2 separate regions of the Homo sapiens genome follow, and region 1 is linked to region 2. The links come from fine-mapping of genetic effects on gene expression. Tissue or cell type: whole blood. Region 2 holds a variant in brackets; the other region holds the start of a gene. All regions are shown on one strand. Distances are between the middles of the regions.

Region 1 (12,286 bases), 46 kb before region 2:
CCCAAAGTGCTGAGATTACAGGTGTGAGCAACCATGCCTGGCCTAAGGTGAGTTCTCTTGTTGTAGACAGCATATAGTTAGGTCGCATTTTTGAAAATCTATTCTGCCAATCTCTGTCTTTTGATTTGAGAGTTTAATCCATTTACATTTAAAGTAATTACTGAGAATGAGAGACTTACTTTTCTCATTTTGATATTTGTTTTTTATATAACTTATAGCTTTTCTTGTTCTTCTTTTCCTGCATTGCTATCTTATTTTGTGGTTAGCTGATTTTTTTTTTTTTTTTTGCAGTGAAATGTTTTAATTCCCTTCTCATTCCCTTGTGTGTATATTCTATAATTATTTTCTATGTTGTTACCATGGGGATTACATTAAAATCCTAAAGTCAGAATATTCTAATTTGAATTCATACCAACTTAACTTTAATAACATACAAAATCTCTGCTTCTAATACCTCTGTCCCCATCCCTTTCAGTTATTAATGTCATAAAATTACATCTTCATACATTGTGCACCCAAAAACATAAAGTAGTAATTTTAAATAATGCATTAGTCTCTTAAATCACGGAGAAAACAGTAAGTGGATTTTATGATGATATTAGCTTTTATAATTGCCCATGTATTTACTTTTACTGAAATATTTATTTCTTTACATTGCTTCAAGACACTGTCCAGTGCACTTTGATTTCAACCTGCTGGACTTCCTTTAGTTTAGTATTTCTTGCATGGCAGCTCTAGTGGTGACAAACTCAGCTTTTGCTTATGTGGGGATGTCTTAATTTCTCTCACTTTTGAAGGACGGTTTTGACAGTTAGAGAATTTTGGGTTGATTATTTTTTCTTTTAGCATTTTGAATGCATCAGCCCACTACCTTCTAACTGCTGAAGTTCTGATAAGAATCTGCAGATAATCTTATTGAGGATCCCTTGTATATGATGAGTCACTTCTCTCTTACACTTTAAAGATTCTCTTTTTGTCTTTGGCTTCAGACAGTCTGATTATAATGTCTTGGTGTGGGTCTTTTTGAGTTATTCCTACTTGAAGTTTGCTGAGCTTCTTGGATGTTTATATTCATGTCTTTTATCAAACTTGGGGAGTTTCTGGCCATTATTTCTTCAAATAAGCTCTCAAATAATTCTCCTTTCTCTTTCTCTTTTTCTGAAATTCCCATGGTACGCTGTTGGTTTGCTTGATTGTGTCCCACAAGTGTTTCAGGCTTTGTTCACTTTTTTCAATCATTTTTCTTTTCGTTCTTCAGACTCAATAATTTCAATTGTCCTATATTTAAATTTGTGCATTCTTTTTTCTGCTTGCTTAAATCTGCCTTTGAAACCATTTAGTGATTTTTAAATTTCATTTATTGTATTTTCACCTCTAGAATTTCTTTTTGGTTTCTTTTTGGGTTTTCTATTTTTTTATTGACATTTCTGTTATGTTTATGCATTTTTTTAACTTTCTCCATGTCTTCCTTTAGTTCTTTGAGCATCTTCAATATAGTTGCTTTAAAGCCATTGTCTAGTAGGCTCACCTTCTGATCATTCTCTGGGACAGTTTCTGTTGGTTTATTTTTTCCCTTTGAAGGGGCCATACTCCCCTCTCTCCCTTCCTCTCTCCCTGCCTTCCTGCCTTCCTTCCCCTCTATCTCTTTCCTTCTTTCTCCCCCTGTCTCTCTTCCTGTCTTTCTTTTTTGAGATAAGGTCTCACTCTGTCACCCAAACTGGAGTGTGGTGGCACAATCATGGCTCACTGCAACCCCCAACTCTCAGGTTCAAATGATCCTCCTGCCTCAGCCTCCTGAGTAGCTGGGACTACAGGTGTGGACTACCTGTCTGGCTAATTAAAAAAAAGTTTTTGTGGAGATGGGGTCTCACTATATTGCCTCAACTGGTCTCAAACTCCTAGACTCAAGTAGTCTTCCCACCTTGGCTTCCCAAAGTGGAGGCATAAGCCTCCACCACACCTAGCCTTTTCTTGTTTCTTACTATAGGTTTTTAGTTACAATTAGTAGCAGTTCTAAGTGATCTTGAGAGTTGCCACATTTCAAATGCTCAGCAGCCACATGTGGGTACTGTGACAACTGTGTTGAAGAGTGCAGCCTTAGAACAAAGGGATTGAGGCCGAGCGCGGTGGCTCATGCCTGTAATCCCAGCACTTTGGGAGGCTGAGGCGGGTGGATCACCTGAGGTCAGAAATTTCAGACCAGCCTGGCCAACATGGTGAAACCCTGTCTCTACTAAAAATACAAAAATTAGCTGTGCACGGTGGTGCACGCCTGTAATCCCAGCTACTTGGGAGGCCGAGGCAGGAGAATGGGTTGAACCTGGGAGGCGGAAGTTGCAGTGAGCCGAGGTCGCATCACTCCACTCCAGCCTGGGTGACAGAGCAAGACTCTGTCTCAAAAAAAACCAAAACCAAAACAAAACAAAACAAAAAACAAAAGAATAAAGGGGTTGAGAGGCAAACTACTGTATCCTTGTCCTACCTTAGAGAAGAGGAAAATGAGACACAGGAGGAAGTAAGTGACTTGCCCAGGGTTATGCACTGTAGTCATTTAAATGGTAGCCCCCAAGAAGGTACATCCATGTTATAATTCCTGGAACTTGTGAATGTCATTTTATTTGGCGAAGGGGTCTTTGCAGGCATAACTATATTAAGGATTTTGAGATGAAGAGATCATCTCGGATTATCCAGTGAAGCCCTAAATCCAAGGACCAGTGTTCATATAAAAGATATACAAGGTATAGGGCCAGTGCAGTGGCTCACGCCTGTAATCCTAGCACTTTGGGAGGCTGAAGGCAGGCAGATCACCTGAGGTCAGGAGTTTGAGACCAGCCTGGCCAACATGGTGAAACCCTGTCTCTACTAAAAGTACAAAGATTAGCCGGGCATGGTGGCGGGTGCCTGTAATCCCAGCTACTTGGGAGGCTGAGGCAGGAAAATCACTTGAACCCGGGAGGCAGAGACTGCAGTGAGCCGAGACCATGCCATTTCACTCCAGCCTGGGCAACAAGAGCAAAACTCCATCTTGGAAAAAAAAAAAAAAGAAAAGAAAAAAGAGATATACAGGGGATATTAGAGAAACAGAAGGGGTGAAGATAGGCACACAGAGGAGAGGGTGATATAAAGACAGAGGAGGATGGGAGCGATGTGACCACAAGCCAGGGAAGCCAGGGAATGCTGACAGCCTCCAGAAGCCACAAAAGGCAAGGAAGCGTTCCCCTCTGAAACCTCCAGAGGGAATGTGGCCCTGCTGACACTGTGACTTATGGTTTCTGGCCTCCAGAATGATGAGAGAATAAATTTTTGTTATTTCTAGCCACCCTGTTCTGTTATAATTTTTTATGGCAGCCACAGGTCTGGAGCAAAGGGACCTTGGACTCCATTCTCAGCCACAGCAACCTGCCCCCTCACTGCCTCTGAAATCTTTCAAGTGACCAGCATTCACTCCTTCATGAGCAGAGTGGGCCTGGGGGGCTCTGGTGGCAAGGAGGACCCATGCCCAATCTACGGGGAGCTGCTGCCCTGCAGCTCCTGTTGGCACTATGCCATGTTGCCCTAATCTCTTGCCTGATCTGCTCAGTTGACCTCTTCACTGCTCTTCCTGCCTCCACCCTTTCTCCTCTAATTTCCACATAGTAGCTAGGGTAAGCTTTTAAAATGAAAACCCCATAAGTTGTATCAGGCCACTCCTCAGCTTCCAACCCTCCAATGGCTTCCATTCACTGGAGTGAAATCCAAACTCCTTATCACATTTGCAAAGCCCTTTGGGGCCCTGCTACCTCCCTGACCTCATCTCATAAGTCCTCTCTCCTCTCTGTTCATCCAACCACTGAGGCCTTCTCGCTATTTCTCCAACATACCAAGCTTGATACTCCCCTAGGCTCTTTGCATTTTCTGTTTTCTCTGTCTGGAAACTCTCGATAGTCCCCTGGCTCACCCTCTCACTTTATTCAGGCCTTACTCAGATGTCCCCATATTATAAAGGATTTCCCTGTGGTCTTTATAATAATGCTTTATTTTTATTTACAAACATTCTATTATACACCACCAGGTATGGATTCGTTAGTTGGTTAGGTTATTACTCCCCCTTCCCCATTAGACTATAAGCTCCACTAGGGCAGGGACCTTTGTCTGGTTTGTTTAACAGTATCTGGAACAGCACACAGTAGGTGCTTAATAAGCAATTTGTTGATTGAAAGAACAAATGTATGAGTGAGGGAGGAATGTAGGCTCCATTTAGCTCTATCTTTTTTCCTAGATAAGTCAGAATCTGGATATTTAAGTAAAATTCTATGACCCGTGAACTTAAAAAACAACAACAACAACAACAACCCACTGGGCTAGCTTAAAAAAAATAGAGCATCTGGAGCCACCAGTTTGAGACCCTGACCTACAGGAATCTGGGTCCAATGGGAACCACATTTCTCATCCTCACTTGGTGCAACGCCTTCAGGAACCAAGTGGCTCTTTTCCATCCACAGCCCTTGCATCCCCAGGCCCCGGCGCCATGAGGTACTGTTTGTTGTTACAGACCAAAGTCATCCAGGGCACTTCATTCAAAAGGCAGGATGTGGGCTGTGAGCTTCCAGCTCATCAGTTCAAAGGAAATCTACTTCAGCAGCAATGTCTCCTGGGATGTTTTCCCAAGCCTCCCTGGGAGGTGGTGGGGCCTCTTCAAGGACTAATAATAGACAGGCACATCCAGTTTCCCAAACATGTCAACCTTAAAAGTGAATGCTATTTTTTCCTCCTTACCTTTGAATTACTATGTAGGAGAGGGACATTCTATTATTGCAGCCCTTGCTCTCGACATGCTACCTAATAATGACTTACCACTCAGCAGCTTCCAGGCAAAATTGTCATAGTGGGACCTGAGCTCGTGCAACTCCAGCCTGCCCCCCTTCATCCACCACTACTCAGGTTCACCCCTTTGTCACCAGGATGCTTTGTAGTCAGGCCAGCCCAATCACCATTCAGCAACGGTATGACTGTGGGTGTATCTTAATCACTCTGAACCTCCCCATCCTTATCCATAATGAAAGTTACCAGATCTACATAGGGTTGTTGCGGGGGCTAAATAAGACAGCACAAGTACCTGATGCCCAGCAATCACTTGATATTTATTATTAAACACCTACTGGGTGTGAGTGGGGGTAAGAAGTGCCGACCTTTAAGTCTTCATTCATTCACTTGTTCATCCATGCCCTCACTCAATCAACCAATATTTACTGGGGTCTTGGGAGGTGTCAGGCACTGAGCTTGGTGCTGGGCGACATGGTGGTGAACAGCCCCCCTGCTCTCACAGAGCCTAGGTCTGGTGAAGGAGCTCACAGCCTAATGAAGCTCTGCGTTCCCAGAGTGGGGGACATGGTGGCAGTGGGTATCTTTAGGCCTTGTGCATGAACAGGGCGCTAAATAACATTGAATTACACATTGTAGACAATTATTACCCTTTCAGTTACCTTCAGATCACATCAAGGAGAGAGTCCTGGTTGGATAGTAATGTCTTTAACACCCCTCTAGCATTTATTAATTTCCTCTCTTAACAAATAAAAGATGACTTCAGTCGAAGATGCTTAGGACAGATGACGGCACCTGGAGATATTTTAATAATGTAGATACCTCTTGCTGTTCAAACTCAGACCAAAAGAGATAGGCTTTTTTTCCCCCAGAGGGTGCACAAATACGACCAGAATTTGTGAAGACGAGTCAGAAATGAATGAAATTTGGAAAAATATTGATCTACTGAAATCCTTCCTCCCCACACTATTAGCCCTATGTTACAGTTGGGGAAACGGAGTCGTTTTGCAGAGGGGATGGACAGAAGGTAGGGAGTTCTCTTCCAAACGTGCAGGAGGCAAGCAAAGCCAAGAATCTTCTCTGTGGTGGAGTTAGAGACATATAAAATAAAGATCGCTCCTCCCCTACCTCTGCAGAACGTGTGTGTGTATGTGTGTGTAAGTGTGTGCGGCCACAAGCCTTTCCGAATGAGTGACAGCGGGAGCCCATCCCTCCAGGAGACGCGTGCAGAATGACCAATGGGATGGATGGGGGTGGATGGGTACCAGTCTCCGCAGAGGCCGGGGTGGAATTCGCTGCGCCCCACCCCTTCCACCCGCTCCCCTTCGCCCCGTAGGTCTTTCCACTCTCGCTCCTCCCCTGGGCACATCTCCTGAACGCAGCCCCGGGGGCCGAGGACGGGGTGGGGTGGGGGGCGAGGCTCGGGTCCGACGACCCCGGGCTGCGGTCCCGGCGCTGCAGAGCTGCGGCTGTGCACGCTTAGCCGCGAGGCCCGCGGTAGCCCGGGCGCCGATATGTAAAGCAGCTGGCAGCGCTGGGCGGGGCCTGGGCGCGATGCAAATGAGGAGGGCGGGGCTGGCCCGGGGCTCCGCCTCCCTCCCCCGCAGCTGGGGCCAGCGGTGCCAAGCGCAGCTGGACGAGCGGCAGCAGCTGGGCGAGTGACAGCCCCGGCTCCGCGCGCCGCGGCCGCCAGAGCCGGCGCAGGGGAAGCGCCCGCGGCCCCGGGTGCAGCAGCGGCCGCCGCCTCCCGCGCCTCCCCGGCCCGCAGCCCGCGGTCCCGCGGCCCCGGGGCCGGCACCTCTCGGGCTCCGGCTCCCCGCGCGCAAGATGGCTGACCCGGCTGCGGGGCCGCCGCCGAGCGAGGGCGAGGAGAGCACCGTGCGCTTCGCCCGCAAAGGCGCCCTCCGGCAGAAGAACGTGCATGAGGTCAAGAACCACAAATTCACCGCCCGCTTCTTCAAGCAGCCCACCTTCTGCAGCCACTGCACCGACTTCATCTGGTGAGCGCGCGCGCGCAGGGCACCTTCCCGGGCCCCCGAGGGCAGCGCCGCGCCAGGGACCCCCTCTCCGCGCCCTCTGCGCCCTCCGCGCCCTCCGCACCCTGGGACCCCGCGTCTCCGGACTCCCGGCTCCGGACCCTGCTGCCCGGGACTCCCGGATGGACAGTCCTGCCGTTGCCCTGTCCCCACCCTGGTCCCAGACGGGCCGCCGCGGGGCGCCTCCTGCCCTCTCCTGCTCTCAGGCGCCTCTAGAGCGCCCAGGGGCGGCGTCGCGGGAGCCTTTGCTCCACCTGACTAGGAGCGCGCGGGGTCTGTGCCTGCCCTGGAGGGCAGCGCCTCGGGTGCTCTCCGACCCGGGGTTCCCTATCTCTCCGCCTGCTTCCGGGCGCGAGGAGCCCTCGCCCCCCACCCCTTGTTTCCGGGGGGGGCGGCGCCCTGGGTGTCCTTCTCTATCTCCCTGCGGGCATGGGACATCCTTTCTCACTCCTCTGTGCCTCCGGGCAGCGCCCTGTGTTATCTCCCATTGCCCCTCCCCGAGGGCCTGGGTTCCCCTTTCCACTCCTCGGTCACATCACTGCGGGCCCCTTTCTTCCCCAGTCCCTCCAGTAGTGGGGCATCCTTTCCTCCTTCCCAGTCCCCCTCCCAGAGGACACCACCGCCGCGGGGTCACTCTCGCCCTCCCTCTGAATGCGTCTTTATCTCTTCTCTTTTCCCGAGGGTGCTCGGGGCATCTATGGGTACATCTGTCGCCTGCCTTCAGCCCCTACCCCGACGGAAACGCTCCCCACTATCCCGCCACCTGGTGGTCGCAGCCTCCTCTCTTCTGCAGGAGTGAAGGCAGATGGGGGTTACAGCCGAGCTCCCACCTACCCCCACAAAGGCGGAAGACTCTTGGGCACCCGCCTGTGGCTGGGAGTTTGCACCTGGGGTACAGAGGCAGGGAGGAAGGCGGGTGACTCTGTGGGTAACTAGCTGGAGGCTGGGCCCCCCGGGCTGCCTGACATACACCTCCTTCTGCTTTTGCAGGGGCTTCGGGAAGCAGGGATTCCAGTGCCAAGGTAGGCTCTGGGGCTTTGGGGATGCTATTTGTGGGAAGAGAGGGTGAAAAATACTTTATAGAAGAAGTTACTGAGTTAGGCAGAGAGTGAAAGAATCACGTTGGTCGGAGTGACCTCCCAGGCTAGGAATTCTTCACCACAACAGGGTCCTTTCAAGGGGTGTGTGTGTGACTGGGGCCGATGGCGCTTGGGAGTCTTACATGCCAAGGAAGTTCACCTACCCTTCCTGCCTTCCCGGCTCTGGAAGAGTCAAAGCGGTCTCCTGAAGCAATCCTGGCATGGTCAGTTCCGCTGGGGGAGAAAGTGTTTTCCCGGGACGTTTCTGGGAGAACCTGTCCTCCTTAGTTCCCCTTTCTCTGCCCATGTCCCTTCCTTATCTCACCCAGGGAGGTTCTGCCTCTCCCTGCCTTGCAGAGGTCTCTGCAGGTGGCTGCCGCTCCTCTGCAGATGGTGCATCCCCTAGAAAGGCGACTGTGTTTGTCGCCTGGGCCTCCTCTCTCTCTGAAAGAAGTATTTCCAGAGGGAGTGTTTCTCAGATCCTGGTTTAAATCACCCTATCTTCTGGGTTGAAACAGAAAGGTCTCCAGGGCACTGGTTACCTGAGTTCTTGCATCTGGCTTGAGATCCTGGACTCTAACCAGGGGTATCAAACCTGCTGGTGGTGAGTTGATCACGTGTAAAGTGTCCCCCTCCCCCGTCTTTGGGGCTCATGTCTAAAAGACAGATTGCAAATTGGCTCTCCAGGACCAAAAGTTACCCGCAGCTCTGTGTAGCCCTTAGGGTGTCTTACTTGTGAATTTGATGTGAACGTTTTAGAACTGGGAGATTTCACATACACATCCTAATTTCCAACTTTAACTTTGCTGAGAAATGGTCTCACTTTCGCTTGAAAACAATCGTTTGGAGCTGAGAGCCGTCGTCGTAGATGGGGAACAGCCTTACCATTTTGTCTCAGTTGATCCCAGTGGGGAACACTTCACCCATTTCTGGCCCCTGTGGGCATTTAAGTTTGCAACCTCTCATCTGGAAAGTTTGTGTGTTATGTTTTCTTTTTAATTTAAATTTTAATTTTTCACTCTTGGGCTTGGTAAGATTGAGTTTGGTAAGAAACGGCACATTTCTGGGGTATTGTATCTTTAGGGGCAAAGTGACCACCACCCTGGTGAGCTGGGTTTAAATCAAAAGAAAGTATTTGAGTGTGGAAGAGTCTGACGTGATTTAGCACTGACTGACAGTTTTGTGGCTGCACCTCCACCCTCCAGGGAAAAGTAAAGTGATCCCTAGTGAGTGTAGGTGGCATCGTCAGTGGTGCAGAATGTTTGCTTGCTGGCAGCATGGCACTGTGCTCCTCTGAGACTCTTGCATACTCTTCTGAGATCGGGGTCCCGGTGGGCTCAGTGAGCCCTGCCAACCTACCCAGCCTGTCTTACCAAGATTTGGATCCTCTGCACCACACCAGAGGACTCCTCAAGTCTCTTTAAGTGGCAACAACTTAGGCCCTGGTGCAAACAAATTTGGATTGTTTTCTAGAACTTTGACCCCTCAAACAAAATGCCAATGGTGTCTTGGCACCGGAATGTGTAATTTCTTCTTTGAGGTTGCCTTTCACTTCCATGAATCAGTTTCAGTCTTTGTCTCTTGCTGAGATCGGGGGCGATTTTTAAACATTTTTACCACGGATCTTCTATGCCACCTGCTCTGCTGTTATTGATGGATGGGAAAGTCACTTTGGAATGTGCAAGGCATGACACATTTGAAATAGGAGATCCTTTAACTCAAAGTCTGGAAGATAATAGGAATTTTCTGATGTTAAGAGAAAAAGGCAGAATTAAAGTTTGTAATGAAATATGGGCGCTCTAGAGATAGGAGTGTCTTTTTTTTTTTTTTGACAGGGTCTCACTCTTTTGCCCCGGCTGGAGTACAGTGGTATGATCAGAGCTCACTGCAGCCTCAAACTCATGGGCTCAAGTGATCCTCCTGCATCAGCCTCCTGATTAATTGGGACTACAAGTACGCACCACCATGCCTGGCTAATTTTAAAACAACTTTTGTAGAGAAGGGGTCTTGTGATGTTGCAAGACTGGTCTTGAACTCCTGGCTTCAAGCAACCCTCCCACCTCAGCCCCCAAGTGTTGGGATTATAGGTGTGAGCCACTATGCCCCTCTGGAGTGTCTATTTTTTAAATTGCCTTTCTTTTTCTCTTCCCTGCCTCCCCACCAAGAGGCAGCGTAGAGAAGTGGGCATTTGCACAGGCTACCAGGCAAGTCCCTGTCGGTCTGAATCCTAGCTTTGAGACTTCCCAGGCATATTACTTAGCCTCTCTGTATTTCAGCCTCCTTGTCTATAAAACGGAGTCAGTAACAGTACCATAGTGTGGCTGAGCAGCTCCAACTCATTGCAATATCCAAGATTCTTGGACCAGAGCTTGACACAGAGTATGCTCAGAAAATATCTGCTCTTATGATTGTCCCCAGACTACCCCAATGGTGGGGCAGCTGGCACGAGAGAAGACTGGCTCTGCAGGGTTGCTTTGCTATGGAACTGCCTGCCAGGTAAGAGTCAAAACTCAGCCATGAACTTCTGGTCACTCTGTGTAGCTGCTTTGACAGCATATTCCATTTGGGCAGCAGTAGGGAGGAGTGAGGGGAGGGGCAGATTGGCAGTCCCTGAAATTGAGATGTTTAGAATGGGAACATATAGGAAAGAGGGAAATTTATCCCTGGTACTCAGCATTGCCTGGGACTAATTCTGGAACCACTGAGGAGTTCCTTAGTATCTGATTGTTCTTGGTATCAGATATTTCCTCTGAAAGTAAATCCACTTACGATGGAATCAACAGTTTATACAAAACACATAAGGTTTTATGATCTCACTTAAGTCAGCAATCCAGAGCCCAGGGCCTCAGGTTCCTTTGAGTTTTCTGCTCCACTATCCCTGGGGAGTGACAATTATCTCATGGTCCAAAAAGGATGCTAGACGCTGGAGTCCTCACACCCTTCTTTCAGCTAGCAGGAAGGAAGAAAGGGGTAAAGAAGGGCATATAGCACATGCTCGGTGTCACTTGTTTAAGTTGCTCAAGATCCTTCTACCTACATCCTCTTAGCTAGGGTTTAATCACATACCCACACCTTGCTGTGAGGGAGCATGTGGGAAATGTAGTGTTTATTTCAGGCAGCCACTATTTAGAGGATGTTTCCATTTCAAAAATACAAGCAGAGAGAGGATGTTGTCTCTGCCACTCTGGTAGGAGGTGTGTAGGATGATCGCAAGGCAAAGAAACCATTGAGAGTAACCTTCAGGCTCTATTACATTGTCATGGAAATTGGGGACACTGCTATGGGTTGGGAGAGGAAGGATGGAAAACTCATAAACCTTGGGAAATTATGGATTTCTGTGTGCTCAGGGGAGCTTAAGAATAGATTTTCTTGCTTTCGTATGATGATAGGACGAAACTCTAGGTTGACTGCCTCATAATTTCTCCCTTTTTGTTTCCACTCTGTCTATTTCTTATAAAACCACTCTCTGGGAGGTAATTTAAGAATGTGTTTGATGACAGGGAACTGGGGCTGAAGATCCCTATTGTAAAATTGCCTAAATTCTAGAGTAGAAGTGGAACTCCTTTGACAAGCAAGGCAGATTTCTCTCTATGGCATTTTTTTCTTTGCCTTTTATTTATTTATTTATTTATTGAGACAGAGTCTCACTCTGTTGCCCAGGCTGCAGTGCAGTGGCACCATTTCGACTCACGGTAACCTCCATCTCCTGGGGCTCAAGCGATTCTTCTGCCTCAGCCTCCCAGGTTGCTGGGATTACGGGGGCCTGCCACCACGCCTGGCTAATTTTTGTATTTTTAGTAGAGATGGGGTTTCATCATTTTGGCCAGGCTGGTCTTGAACTCCTGACCTCAGGTGATCCACCCGCCTCGGACTCCCAAAGTGTTCAGATTACAGGCATGAGCTACAGTGCTGGCTGTTTCTGTGGCATTCTTTACAGGAACTTAGGACCTGCATTTGAGCTTTAATTTTAATTAAAGTCTTCTCTAAGAAGATTTTTGGTAGAGAGAAAAACCTTCTTCTTTTATTTTAAATTTTGTTTTTAGAGACAGGGTCTCACTGTGTGGCCCAGGCTGGAGGGCAGTGACATGATCATAGCTCACTGCAGCCTCAAACTCCTGGGCTCAAGTGATTCTCCTGCCTCAGTGTCCTGAGTAGCTGGGACTGCAGGTGTGTGTCACCACGGCCCTTTTTTTTTTTTTTTTTTTTTTTTGAGACGGAGTCTTACTCTGTCATCCAGGCTGGAGTGCAGTGACGTGATCTTAGCTCACTGCAACCTCCACTTCCCAGGTTCAAGTGATTCTCGTGCCTCAGCCTCTTGAGTAGCTGGAACTACAGGCACGTGCCACCATGCCCGGCTAATTTTTATATTTT
Region 2 (12,286 bases):
TATATATATATATATATGATGTATATCACACACATATGTGTATATCACACACATATGTATGTATATCACACACATGTGTATATCAAACACATATGTATATCACACACATATGTATGTATATCACACACATATATGTATGTATATCACACATATATGTATGTATATCACACATATATATGTATGTATATCACACACATATATGTATGTATATCACACATATATATGTATGTATATCACACATATATATGTATGTATATCACACATATATGTATGTATATCACACATATATGTGTGTATATCACACATATATGTGTGTATATCATATATATATATGCATGACCCATATTTAAAAGTAGGATATTTCATAACGAAATACCAGTATTAGGTATCTTTTGAAAAAGTGTCGTAACTGACAGCCCAAGTCTGCATTCCTTCATGGCACCAGGGCTAGAACTGAGAAGTAGCTGACTTTTTGGGGTGGATATGGGCTCCCCTAGTCATGCTATATGCCTCATTTTATGTGACTGGCCGGGCCCCATAGGCGTTTATGTTTGCCACTCTTTTAGAGGTCCCTTTAAGGTTGACATATATTCATTGATTGATCAACTCATTTACACACGCATGCAGTCATTTTTTGGACCCCTGTCTATGTGCTCTGCACAATGCGAGGTGTGGGATATAATGGTGACCAAGACAGATTCCAACCACTCACTCACAGATCCCACAGCCTACCAGGGAAGCCAGATATGGAACAATTATATACGTAATTTTACTTGTAAGTGCCACAAAGACAAATTGTATTAAGTAGTACCATGTGGCTGTGGAAGTTTAACTTGTCACTAATCCACCAAACTCTGAGAAGACAGCATATTTTCCGTCATTCCCAAAAGACTATCACAGGCAACATTGAGGAATGCTTTGTTAAACTCCAGGGATATATTCCACATCACACTTCCCCCGTCCACCAGATTAGCAACTGTCCAAGGACAAAACAAAACACACACTAAAAAGGAAATGGGGTTAGTCCGATATGTCTCCATCTCCTTATGCTGGTTCTTTTGTCTGCAGAAGCCACGGTTTCTTTTTCTTTTTGAAAAAAAAAAATGACATTTGCGTACCTCTCTGCGTTTCTCTTTCTCCAGGATTCTTCTGGGATCCTAGGCAGTGTGGTTTGGTGATCTCACTGGTGAGATCTCTTGGAGCCCTGGAATGCAATTCATCTGGGCCAGAAGAGTTGAACTAATTTAAGGACATCTGAGTGCTTCACTGATGTATTTGTTCTGCTCTGTCCCTTCAAAATACCACTACTCAAAACAATGTTCAGCTGGAGAAAGTGGTTAACACTGGAATTTTCTTTTTTTCTGAGACCTAAGTGACAGGGAAGGGTGGATGAAGGAAACATATCCTTTGAAAATCCTTTAGTTAGAATCCTTTGGTTGCAAGTAACATAAATGAACTCTGATTAATGTAAGCAAAAAAGAATTTGTTAGAAGGATATGGGGGGGGAGGGATGGACAGAGATGTGAAGGAAAAGATGAAGAACCAGGCTTTAGAAAGTCCTGAAACCAAATGAATTCTAGGGATCTAGGAAGCAGGGACTAATGACTGTTTCCTTCAGGACACCAGAGATGGGGTGAATAACTCTGTAAAAGATGCAAATTTCCCACCTGGGTAACATAGTGAGACCCTGTCCTTAAAAAAAAACAGTAGCCAGGCACAGTGCCTGTAGTCCCAGCTATGTGGAGGCTGAGGCAGAAGGATCACTTAAGCCCAGGAGCTCAAGACTGCAGTGAGCTATGATGGCACTGCTGCACCCCAGCCTGGGCAGCAGAGGGAGACCCTGTCTCTTAAAAAACAAATGCTAAATTTTAGAGAGAATAGAGAGAATCTTTTCTTAAAAAGGTGCTAAGTCTGGGGAAGGAGCTTCTGATTGTCCTGCCTTGAGTCACACGACCATCTCTGACTTGTTGACCCCTCTACAATCCCATATAAGACTCCCCAAGAGTAGATTCTGAGCAGGTAAAGCCCATGGGTGTTCCCAAAAGTCGGCCTCAACCTGAAGCCACTTATTCACTCTGAGCTCATCACCAATGGCATGCCGCACTGTCAAAACTCTCTTTCTGTGCATTTGTCTGGGCCACTCAACTCAGGAAAGTTAGTTGTTCTGTGTGAGTCCCCATGTTCTCACTGATTTCATTTCAGTCTTTAAGCTAAAAATCTGTGTAAATGGTAATGGAGAATGGCTACATCACACTTAGTATGTGTCAAAGCAGTATCCTAAGTGCCTTAGTGGTATCAGCTTATTTAAGACTGACAGTACTCTGAGGTGCAGTCACTTCTTTTTTTTTTTTTCCTTTTTTTCAAAACAGAGTCTCACTCCGTCATCCACACTGGAGTGCAGTGGCATGATCTCGGCTCACCGCAACCTCCGCCTCCCAGGGTCAGGTGATTCTCATGCCTCAGCCTCCTGAGTAGTTGGGACTACAGGCATGCACCACCACTCCTGGCTAATTTTTGCATTTTTAGTAGAGATGGGGTTTCACCACGTTGGCCAGGCCGGTCTTGAACTCCTGACCTCAGGTGATCCACCCACCTGGGCCTCCCAAAGTGCTGTAATTACAGGCGTGAGCCACCGCACCCGGCCTGTCACTTCTTGTCATTCACAGTAGTTATGTTCTGTAAAGTCACTGCAAACACTGAATTAATAAACACTGAACCATTGTTCCTAGGTGAAATACAAAGTTGGGTTCCTGTGAGCCTTTGGTCACAGCATTTTCATCCACTGATCAACCCGTAAGCTTATTCTGTGTGTGTTTCTGTTTAAAGACACCTTAATATATATTGTTGACTCATTAACATCTAACTCACTGCCAACAGCACTCCAACTCGTGCCTGATCAAAGCTTATATAACACACGCATGACACATCTCGGACTCCTTGCACTTAGGAACACCAGATAGCACTTCACCATTACCCTATGGGACCATTTTACAGCAACGTCACCCTCAAAAAGCAGAAAAATGGGAAAAAGCATGCTGCTAATATACCACAGAGAGAATGCTTGTTTACAGCATGAGAGCTGAAGTCTGAAGGTAGAACATGGTTTTGTTCATCCTCAGCTGGGAACACATGTTGGCTGACTCAAATATTTTGCCACTCCGTACATGTCCGTGAGTGATCATGAAAGAACCTTGAGTATGGATTTGGCGGTTATAAATAAATTTTAGCAAGAGGTGAATTTGCAAATAATGAGGATTGACTATAACCCCTGTTATTAGCTCTAGTTAACAGATGGGGGAATGGAGGTAAACAGCTCTCTGCAGGTCTTGCAGCCAGGGAGTGTAGAGGAGGCTTTGTCATTCTGGGTGCACAGCCTGCGTCCTTAAGAGGCAATGTAGTGTTGGCTGGGTGTGGTGGTGGTTCATGCTGTAATCCTAGCACTTTGGGAGGCTGGGGTGGGTGGATTACTTGAGGTTAGGAGTTCAAGACCAGGCTGGCCAACATGGTGAAACCCCGTCTCTACTAAAAATACAAAAAAATCAGTGGGGCGTGGTGGCACGCGCCTGTAATCCCAGCTACTCAGGAGGTTGAGGCAGGAGAATCACTTGAACTTGGGACGCGGAGGTTGCAGTGAGCTGAGAGCGTGTCACTGCACTCCAGCCTGGGCGACAGAATGAGACTCCATCTCAAAAAAAAAAAGAGGCAGTGTAGTGGTTGAGTGCAGTGTAGCTCCTGCTGAGAGCTGGTTTTCATGTTTTGTGGGCACACAGGAAGTAGAGAATGCTGAGAGCTGGGCACTGAAGCAGTAGGAGATATGGGAGTGGGAAAGTGGTTTTCTTTAGTAAGTCTGGGCTGTTTTCATAGCCTAGGATGAAGTTCAGCAATACTCAACCTTGAGGTTTTCCAGGCACCTTCTCCTTGACATGAATCTCCTGCAAACAGATGTCATAGTAATCTGGGAATAAACCTTTGTTGTTGGTCCTTTAGCTATCCTTTTTTTTTTTTTTTTTTTTTTTTTTTTTTTTTTTTGAGACGGAGCCCCACTGTTGCCAGGAGTGCAGAAGCATGATCTCAGCTCACTGCAACCTCCGCCTCCCCAGTTCAAGTGATTCTCCAGCCTAGGCCTCCCGAGTAGCTGGGATTACAGGCATGCACCACCATGCCTGGCTAAGTTTTGTATTTTTAGTAGAGACGGGGTTTCACCATGTTGGCTAGGCTGGTCTCGAGCTCCTGACCTCAAGTGATCCGCCCGCCTCGACCTTTCAAAGTGTTGGGATTATAGGCGTGAGCCACTGAGCCCGGTGCCCTGGTCCTTTAGCTTTCTAAGACAGCAGCATAGTAGTTCAGAGCATAGGCTCTTGGGCCATAGCTTCCTGAGTTCGAATCCTAGCTCTGCTGTTTTTTAAACTCTGTGACCTTGGGCAAGTCTTAACCTCTCTGTGCCTCAGTTTTCTTGTCTGCAAAATGGGATTAATAAAAACACCGATCTCATAGGATTGTTGTGAAAATCGAGTGAGTATGTTTATAGTGTTTAGGAAAGTTCCTGGTACACAAGACATGCTCTGAAAGTGTATTAATATTATTTGTCCTTAGACTCAGTAGTACTCTGGGGGAATCGAATCCCCACCCCTAAGCCAGGCAGCATGGTAGAAGCTAGGTCAGCTGGCAGGCTCCTGGGTCTTTTCCATTCTGCTGCAGGAGATGCCTGACTCACCTCTTGTGCTCACACAGATGACAGCTAAATAGAAGGGCTCTTTCCTCCTAGTATTAGCTTAATTATAGGGGCTCCCTAGAACAGTGGGGAAAATGAGCTTTGAGAATCCCCCCACCACACACACAAGGCCCACACTAGCACCTGAAAGAGGAGTGAACATTGCTTCCTGCCTCCTTCTCCCCCTCCTTCTCACATATGCCTTTGTCTCTGTGATTCTGCACGTTTAATTTTTAATCCCGGGATGGGTTCTATTAGTTTTTGTGTATTTTCTCTGCCCTGGTTTGAGCTCCAAAAGGTCTGTTTGGGTCTCTGTGGGTGTCTGACAGCCTCTGCAGGCCTTTCTGAATTATATAACTCAAGCTTTGTATTTTCTATTTGTTACTGGGGGTTCTTTCTGTGCTATAATTTTACTCTTAGAAAATGAAGTAGGGTACTAGAATTTTCTCTGGGATCCCCTAGGGTTTCCTTCTGAATATTTTTTCCTGCCATATTTTCTTCGCTAAAACATTTTTTTTTCTTATTTCAGAAGCAATACATCTTCATTATAGAACATTACAACAAGATGCAGAGAAAGAAAATAATCTTATCAAGCAGAAATGTTAATACCTTGCTATCTACCCATGTCTCTCTGTCTCTGTCTCCTCAAACACACACAAATGGGGTCAAGATGACATAAGAGACTATCTGCTTTTCAATTCACATTTTACGATCTTTTTTTTTGTATGGTTCTGTAGTCTCCACTGCTTGGCTTGACGATCTTTAACAGGTGCCCTCCGGATGGTCATGGGGGTATTTTCCATTTCTCACTGTTACAAGCAGTGCTCTGATGAAACACCTTTTGCTGGCATTCCTAATTATGTCCTGAGAGCAGACTTCTAGAAGTTTTCAGCAGTGAGGTTAAAGGGAATGTTTGCCTCTCCTCTTCACTCTGTGATGCTCCTGGGGGCCCAGGCCCATGAGTCTCTGTGTCCATCTTCCCAAGATGAAAGACAAAGAATGGGCAGAGCATTGACAGGGCCCTGTGTTGACTCCTTTTCTCTCTTTTCCCAGTTTTTTTTTTTTTTTTTGAGACAGAGTCTCGCTCTGTTGCCCAGGCTGAAGTGCGGTGGCGCGGTCTTGGTTCACTGCTACATTTGCCTCCCAGGTTCAAGCAATTCTCCCGCCTCAGCCTCCCAAGTAGTTGGGATTACAGGCACTCACCACCACACCCAGCTAATTTTGTATTTTTAGGAGAGACGGGGTTTCATCATGTTGCCCAGGCTGGTCTTGAACTCCTAGCCTCAAGTGATCCACTCACCTTGGCCTCCCAAAGTGCTGGGATTACAGGCGTGAGCCACTGCACCCTGGCCCATTCCCGTTTTT[T/A]AAAAAAATATTTTATTCCTTTTAGACTATTTAGCCACAGTTTTCCATTCTATTCCTTGGGATAAGTGAAAACTTGATTTTTAAAAAATAATTACAAAATTTTAAAATCATGGTAAAAAACACATAACATAAAATTTACCATCTTAACTATTTTTTTAAGTGTACAGTATCATTTTAAGTACATTTACATTGTTGTGCAACAGTTAGGACTTTTCATCTCGTAAAACTGAAACTCTATACCCACTGGCAATAACTTCCCATTTCTTCCTCCCCACCGAGCCTCTGGTAACCACCATTCTGCTTCCTGTTTCTATGAGTTTGGCTATTTTAGATGCCTCATGTAAGTGGACTCTTGCAGTATTTGTCTTTTCATGGCTGGTTTCTTCCTTTTTTTCTTTTCCTTTCTTTCTTTCTTTCTTTCTTTCTTTCTTTCTTTCTTTCTTTCTTTCTTTCTTTCTTCCTTCCTTCCTTCCTTCCTTCCTTCCTTCCTTCTTCCTTTCCTTTCTTTCTTTCCTTTTTTTTTTTTTTTGACAGGGTCTCCCTGTTTCTCGCAGGCCAGGCTGGAGTGCAGTGGGGCAATCACAGCTCATGGCAGCCTTGACCTCCTGTGCTCAAGGGATCCTCCCATCTCAGCCTCCTGAGTAACTGGGACTTCAGGCACACACTACCATGCCCGGTTAATTTTTTTCTTGATTTTTAATAGAGACAAGGTCTTGCTATGTTGCCCAGGGTTGTCTCAAACTCCTGGCCTCAAGAGATCCTCCCATCTCAGCCTCCTGAGTAGCTGGGATTACAGGTGCACACTACCATGCCCAGTTAATTTTTTTTCTTGATTTTTAATAGAGACAAGGTTCTTGCTATGTTGCCCAGGCTGGTCTCAAACTCCTGGCCTCAAGTGATCCTCCCACCTCAGCCTCTCAAGGTGAAGGGATGAGCCTCCCAAAGTGAAGGCGTGAGCCATTGCTCCTGGGATGACTGGTTTATTTCACTTAGTGTAATGCCCTCAGAGTTCATTCATGTTGTAGCATATGTCAGAATTTTCTTCCTCTTTAAGGTTGATTAATATTCCATTGTATGAATAGGCAACATTTTGCTTATATATTAATCGGTCAATGGACATTTGAGTTGCTTTCACCTCTTGGCTATTGTGAATAATGCTGTTGTGAACATGGGTATACAAATATCTTTTTTTTTTTTTTTTTTGTAGAGATGGGGTCTCCCTATGTTGGCCAGGCTTGTCTCAAACTCCTTGGCCCAAGCAATCCTCCTACCTCAGCCTCCCAAAGTGCTGAGATTACAGGTGTGAACTACTGCACCTGGCTGAGACTCCACTTCCAATTCTTTTGGATATAGATCCTGAAGTGGAATTGCTGATGGTAGAAACTGTCTCGGGAAGATTTTTCTGGGGATTTGGCTTCTAACTGCACCACAGCTCCAGTGGAAACATCTATTCATTAAACTGGCATTTATTGAGGACCAGCTTTGTTCCAGTCACTGAACAAGGCTGGGGGCATAGCGTGGCTTACATAGGTCCCCACCCTCCATGGAGCTGATATTCAGCAAGAAGCCAGACAATACACAGGTAAGCAAATTGAAAAAAACAGGATGAGATCCACTGGCGATAAATGTCATGATACTGAATCAGGATTTGACAACAGAGTGATGTGGTGAGTGGCTACTTTAGATCAGAAAGGCCTTCCTAACTGGGTGACAGGTGACCTGAGAACTACAAGGTGGGGAGGAGCTAGCCACACAGAATTTGGGAAAATACCATTCTGGGCCCTGGGATGAGCAATGGAAAGGTCTTGAGGAGGAAAGTGGCTAGGCGTGATCCTTGTTGCTGGGGCGTGGTGGGTGTGGGGCCAGATCATAAGGGGCCCCACAGGATGAGCCTCTGTGCTAAGTGCAGTGGGAAGCCACTGGAGAGTTTTAGGTAGGCGAGATGCAAAGGATCAGATTTGTATTTAACACACCTTCCATTGGCTGCCAAGTAGAGAATGGATTGTTGGGGACTGGAGCAGAAGTGGGAGGATGAGTCAGGAGTCAATTGCAGATTTCTAGGTGAGAGATGGTGTCTTTGTCTGCACGGGCAGCAGTGCAGAGGGAGAGACACAGGCAGATTTGGGAGGTAAAAGGACTTACTGGTAAATGGGATATGAATTGGAAGAGGGAAGCAAATGCACAGCTGGGCACCTGGTACACTTTACATATGACGTCTTTGAACTTCGTAGCAATCCCATAACCACATTTTGTAGATCTGTGTTGTCCAGTAGAAATATAACATGAGCCATAAACCTGAGCTGTGTATGTAATTTAAAATGTTCTTAGCAATCACATTAAAATGGTCAAAGGAAACAGGTGAAATGAACTGTGAGAATGTTTTCTTTAACTCAGCATATTCCAAATATTCCCATATCAACATGTAATCAATATAAAATTATTAATGAGATATTTTACTTCCCCGCATAGCAAGTCTTCAACATTTGATATGTATTTTACACGTACAGCACATCTCAATTCAACCACACTTCAAGTACTCAGTAGCCACATATGGCTAGTGGTTACCATATTGGTAGCACAGTTATAGATGAGGAAAGAGAGTCTCAGAGAGTATAAGTTCTTATGCAAGCTTATAGAATTAGGACTTGAACCCTAATTTGACTCTGGCACCCGTGTTGTGCTCAAAGCACTGCATCCACCCCCAATGATGAAGACATTTTCAATGTAAGCAAAAGTCCTGGAGATTTCCCCACATCATATACATGGGGACATAGGAACTAACATTTGTCATATATTTATATTTTCCTTTCCAAAGCAGATCAACCCCAAGTTACCTTCCCTTAGCTCTCGTTTTCTGCCTCTCTTTGCAAATATCACTTCATTAAAAATTGTGAACATTCTCTTTGCCTTCCCTTATGGGCTTCCTGTTTGAACACCACATCCAGGGCACCCTGGGAACTGAACCATCTCCTTTTCTTTTTCTTTTTGAGTCAGGGTTTCACTCTGTCGCCTAGACTGGAATGCAGTGGTGTGACCGTAGCTCACTGCAGCTTCAATCTCTTGGCCTAAAACAATCCTCCCACCTCAGCCTCCTAAGTAGCTGGGACTACAGGAACACACCACCATGCCTGGCTAATTTTTTTATTTTTATTTTTTGTAGCTGCAAGGTCTCACTGTGTTGCCCAGACTGGTCTCAAACTCCTGGACTCAAGCAGTCCTCCCACCTCAGCCTCCCAAAGTGCTAGGATGACAGGTGTGAGCCACAATGCCTAGCCCATATCTCCTTTTCTTTTGTGGCATTCTAGTAGCCCTTTGGTTCATGCGATCATTTAGTTGTTCAGCAAATATGGATGATTGAATGGATATAATAGGTGCAGGGCACTCCCAGGTTCTCAAGATGGATGATCTTGGGCAAGTTATTTAATTTCTCTGGATTTTAGTTTCCTTGCCAGCAAACTCAAGATAATAGTAATGCCTACTTTTAAGTAGTTATTGTGAAGATTATAAGGAATTAACAATAACGATAATAATAAGTAATAATGATACATGTTGTTTATTAGAGCCTGCTATATGCCAGACACTAACTCTATGATTTAACCTTCTCCTGCTACCCTTTACTCTTATTATTTCTTTAGGAGTGAAATTCACTAATCATTAAGCTTTTTAACTAACTGAATCAATTCTGTTTCTTAAGCAGATGGGAGATCCTGTGGCTTTTTACCACTATCCACAGCTCTTTTTTTCTTTTTCTTTTCTTTTTTGAGACGGAGTCTTGCTCTGTCACCCAGGCTGGAGTGCAGTGGCATGATCTCGGCTCACTGCAGTCTCCGCCTCCCTAGTTCAAGCCATTCTCCTGCCTCAGCCTCCCGAGTAGCTGAGGTTATAGGCGCCCGCCACCACGCCCAGCTAATTTTTGTATTTTTAGTAGAGATGGGGTTTCACCATCTTGGCCAGGCTGGTCTCAAACTCCTGACCTAGTGATCTACCTGCCTTGGCCTCCCAAAGTGCTGGGATTACAGGCATGAGCCACTGTGCCTGGCCTATCCACAGCTGGTTTCCCCTCTTTGCCCCCTTTTCTGGCATTCTCTTCTGATTCACTCTCAACTCTGATTTCCAAGCTACCCAGCTCCTTCCCCTAGTGTGAATCTGTATTTGCACTGGATTTATTTTTAAATGGGAAATGAAAGCCACTGTGTGCTGGAAAATATATATTTCAGACACGAGGAAGCTGGCGGGGAAATATTTTTTGGATGTCTTTCTAGATCTCTTAAAAATCCTGTGAGCCATCACCAGGTTGATCTTGTAGTAAGGTGGCCTTGGCCTTAGTGTATTTCTTTTTGACTCGATATTGGGCGGCAGGAGGTTTGAGGATTGTGATACTAACAACATTAACAACAACAAACTTTCATTGATTGATTGCCATGTGCTGGAAATGTGCTAATAAATTACATTTATTTTCTCTTTGAATCCTCAAACCAACTCTTTGAGACAAGTGTGTTGTATTACAGCTGTAGAAACTGAGGTCCTAAGAGGTCAGTAGATTTGCTGAAGGTCACAGAGCTGAGATCCAAATCTAAGCATCACAGCAAGAAGTATCCTTAACCATCATCTTTGCTGTTGGTTGGCATTAGTCTGGCTGTGCTAAGAAAGTTTCCTTTGACTTGCAGATGGATCAAGGCTTTTCTTGAGAGAGGCTTCTCTTGCCTGGTTCTCCTTGATTCTTTTACTCTAGGAGACTCAGTTCTTCTCAAATCCCTGTCTGTGGGACTTTGGGCAAAACATTCAACGTCATCTTTACCTCTTAGAGTCACTGCGAGGGTTGGACTATGGTGTGTTAGGTGTTTTTTTTTTTTTTTTTTTTTTTTTTGATGAAGTCTCACTCTGTCGCCCAGGCTGGAGTGCAATGGCATGATCTTGGCTCACTGCAACCTCCGCCTCCTGGGTTCAACCGATTCTTCTGCCTCAGCCTCCTGAGTAGCTGGGATTACAGGCACGCACCACCACGCCTGACTAATTTTTGTATTTTTAGTAGAGACGAGGTTTCACTATGTTGGCCAGGCTGGTCTCGAACTCCTGACCTCAAGTGATCGGCCTGCCTTGGCCTCCCGAAGTGCTGGGATTACAGGCGTGAGCCACCGTGCCCAGCCGTGTTATGAGTTGAACAGATTTCTTGGCTTCAGCAGGGGCTCAGTATGGGCCTATCATCATTTTCATTTATCTCCTTTTATGCCTCATGCTCTATCTGTCCCCTTCATCTCTGCCTGTAGCAGCCACAGACCCTCTCTTTCCTTGGTGCATGTCCCTCCTTCCCACTTTCCTAATTTCAGCCTGACTTAGTTCTCTACCTGTCAGCTTGGACTTAAGGAAAGGAAGTTCTCTTTTCTTGGGGGGTCACTGGGGCCATGGGCGTCTTTCCACTCCATTTCTTTTCCAAAGCTGCCTCTGGAACGAATCTGTAAATCCCAGGGCATTGCATGAGTTTTCTTTTCTTTCTTTCCTTCTTTCTTTCTCTCTCTTTCTTTCCTTCTTGCTTTCTTGCTTTCTTTCTTGCTTTCTTGCTTTCTGTCACTGAAAGCAAATATTGTAGACAGATATGCTTGTAGGATAGAAATAAAATGCCCCATTCTTTGAAACATATTTTGTTTTTTATTTTAGATTCATGGAGTATGTGTGCAAGTTTGTCACATGGGTATATTGCGTGATGCTGAGGTTTAGGCAATGAACTTGTTACCCAAATAGTGAGCATAGTACCCAGTAGGTAGTTTTTAAACCGTTACCCCCTTCTCTCCCTCCTTTCCGAGTTCCCAGTGTCTGTTGTTTCCATATTTGTGTCTGTGTATACCCCTTGTTTAGCTTCCACTATAGGTGAGAACATGTGGTATTTGGTTTTCTGTTTTTCTGTGATAATTCACTTAGGATAATGGCCTTCAGCTGCATCCATGTTGCTGCAAAGGACATGATTTCATTTTTTTTATGGCTGTGTAGTATTCCATAGTGTATATGCACCACATTTTCTTTATCCAATCCATTGTTGATGGGCACCTAGGTGGATTCCATGTTTTTGCTGTTATGGACAGTGATGCAATAAACATGAGAGTGAAGGTGTCTTTTTGGTGGAATGATGTGTTTTCCTTTGGGTATATACCCAGTAATGGGAATGCTGGATTGAATGGCAATTCTATTTTTAGTTCTTTGAGAAGTCTCTAAACT

The links. PIP is the estimated chance that this variant, and not a neighbour inherited with it, causes the effect.
Region 1: it holds the start of PRKCB, and the variant in region 2 is fine-mapped to the expression of PRKCB in whole blood (TOPMed, PIP 0.92).

The regions. Positions count from the first base shown.
Region 1 is chr16:23,829,549-23,841,834 of GRCh38, forward strand. It overlaps PRKCB (protein kinase C beta), which reads left to right and starts at 6,435. Exons shown (of 17, transcript NM_002738.7): 1 at 6,435-6,800; 2 at 7,827-7,858. The coding sequence starts at 6,628. RefSeq lists silencers at 5,931-6,570, 6,601-6,680, 7,011-7,090 and enhancers at 6,044-6,591, 6,592-7,137, 7,401-7,540.
Region 2 is chr16:23,875,490-23,887,775 of GRCh38, forward strand. All of the region lies in intron 2 of PRKCB (protein kinase C beta), which reads left to right. Among named protein-coding and RNA genes, the nearest start is that of PRKCB, 46 kb to the left of the region's middle. RefSeq lists an enhancer at 6,303-6,432. The variant T/A (reference allele first, on the strand shown) is at 6,077.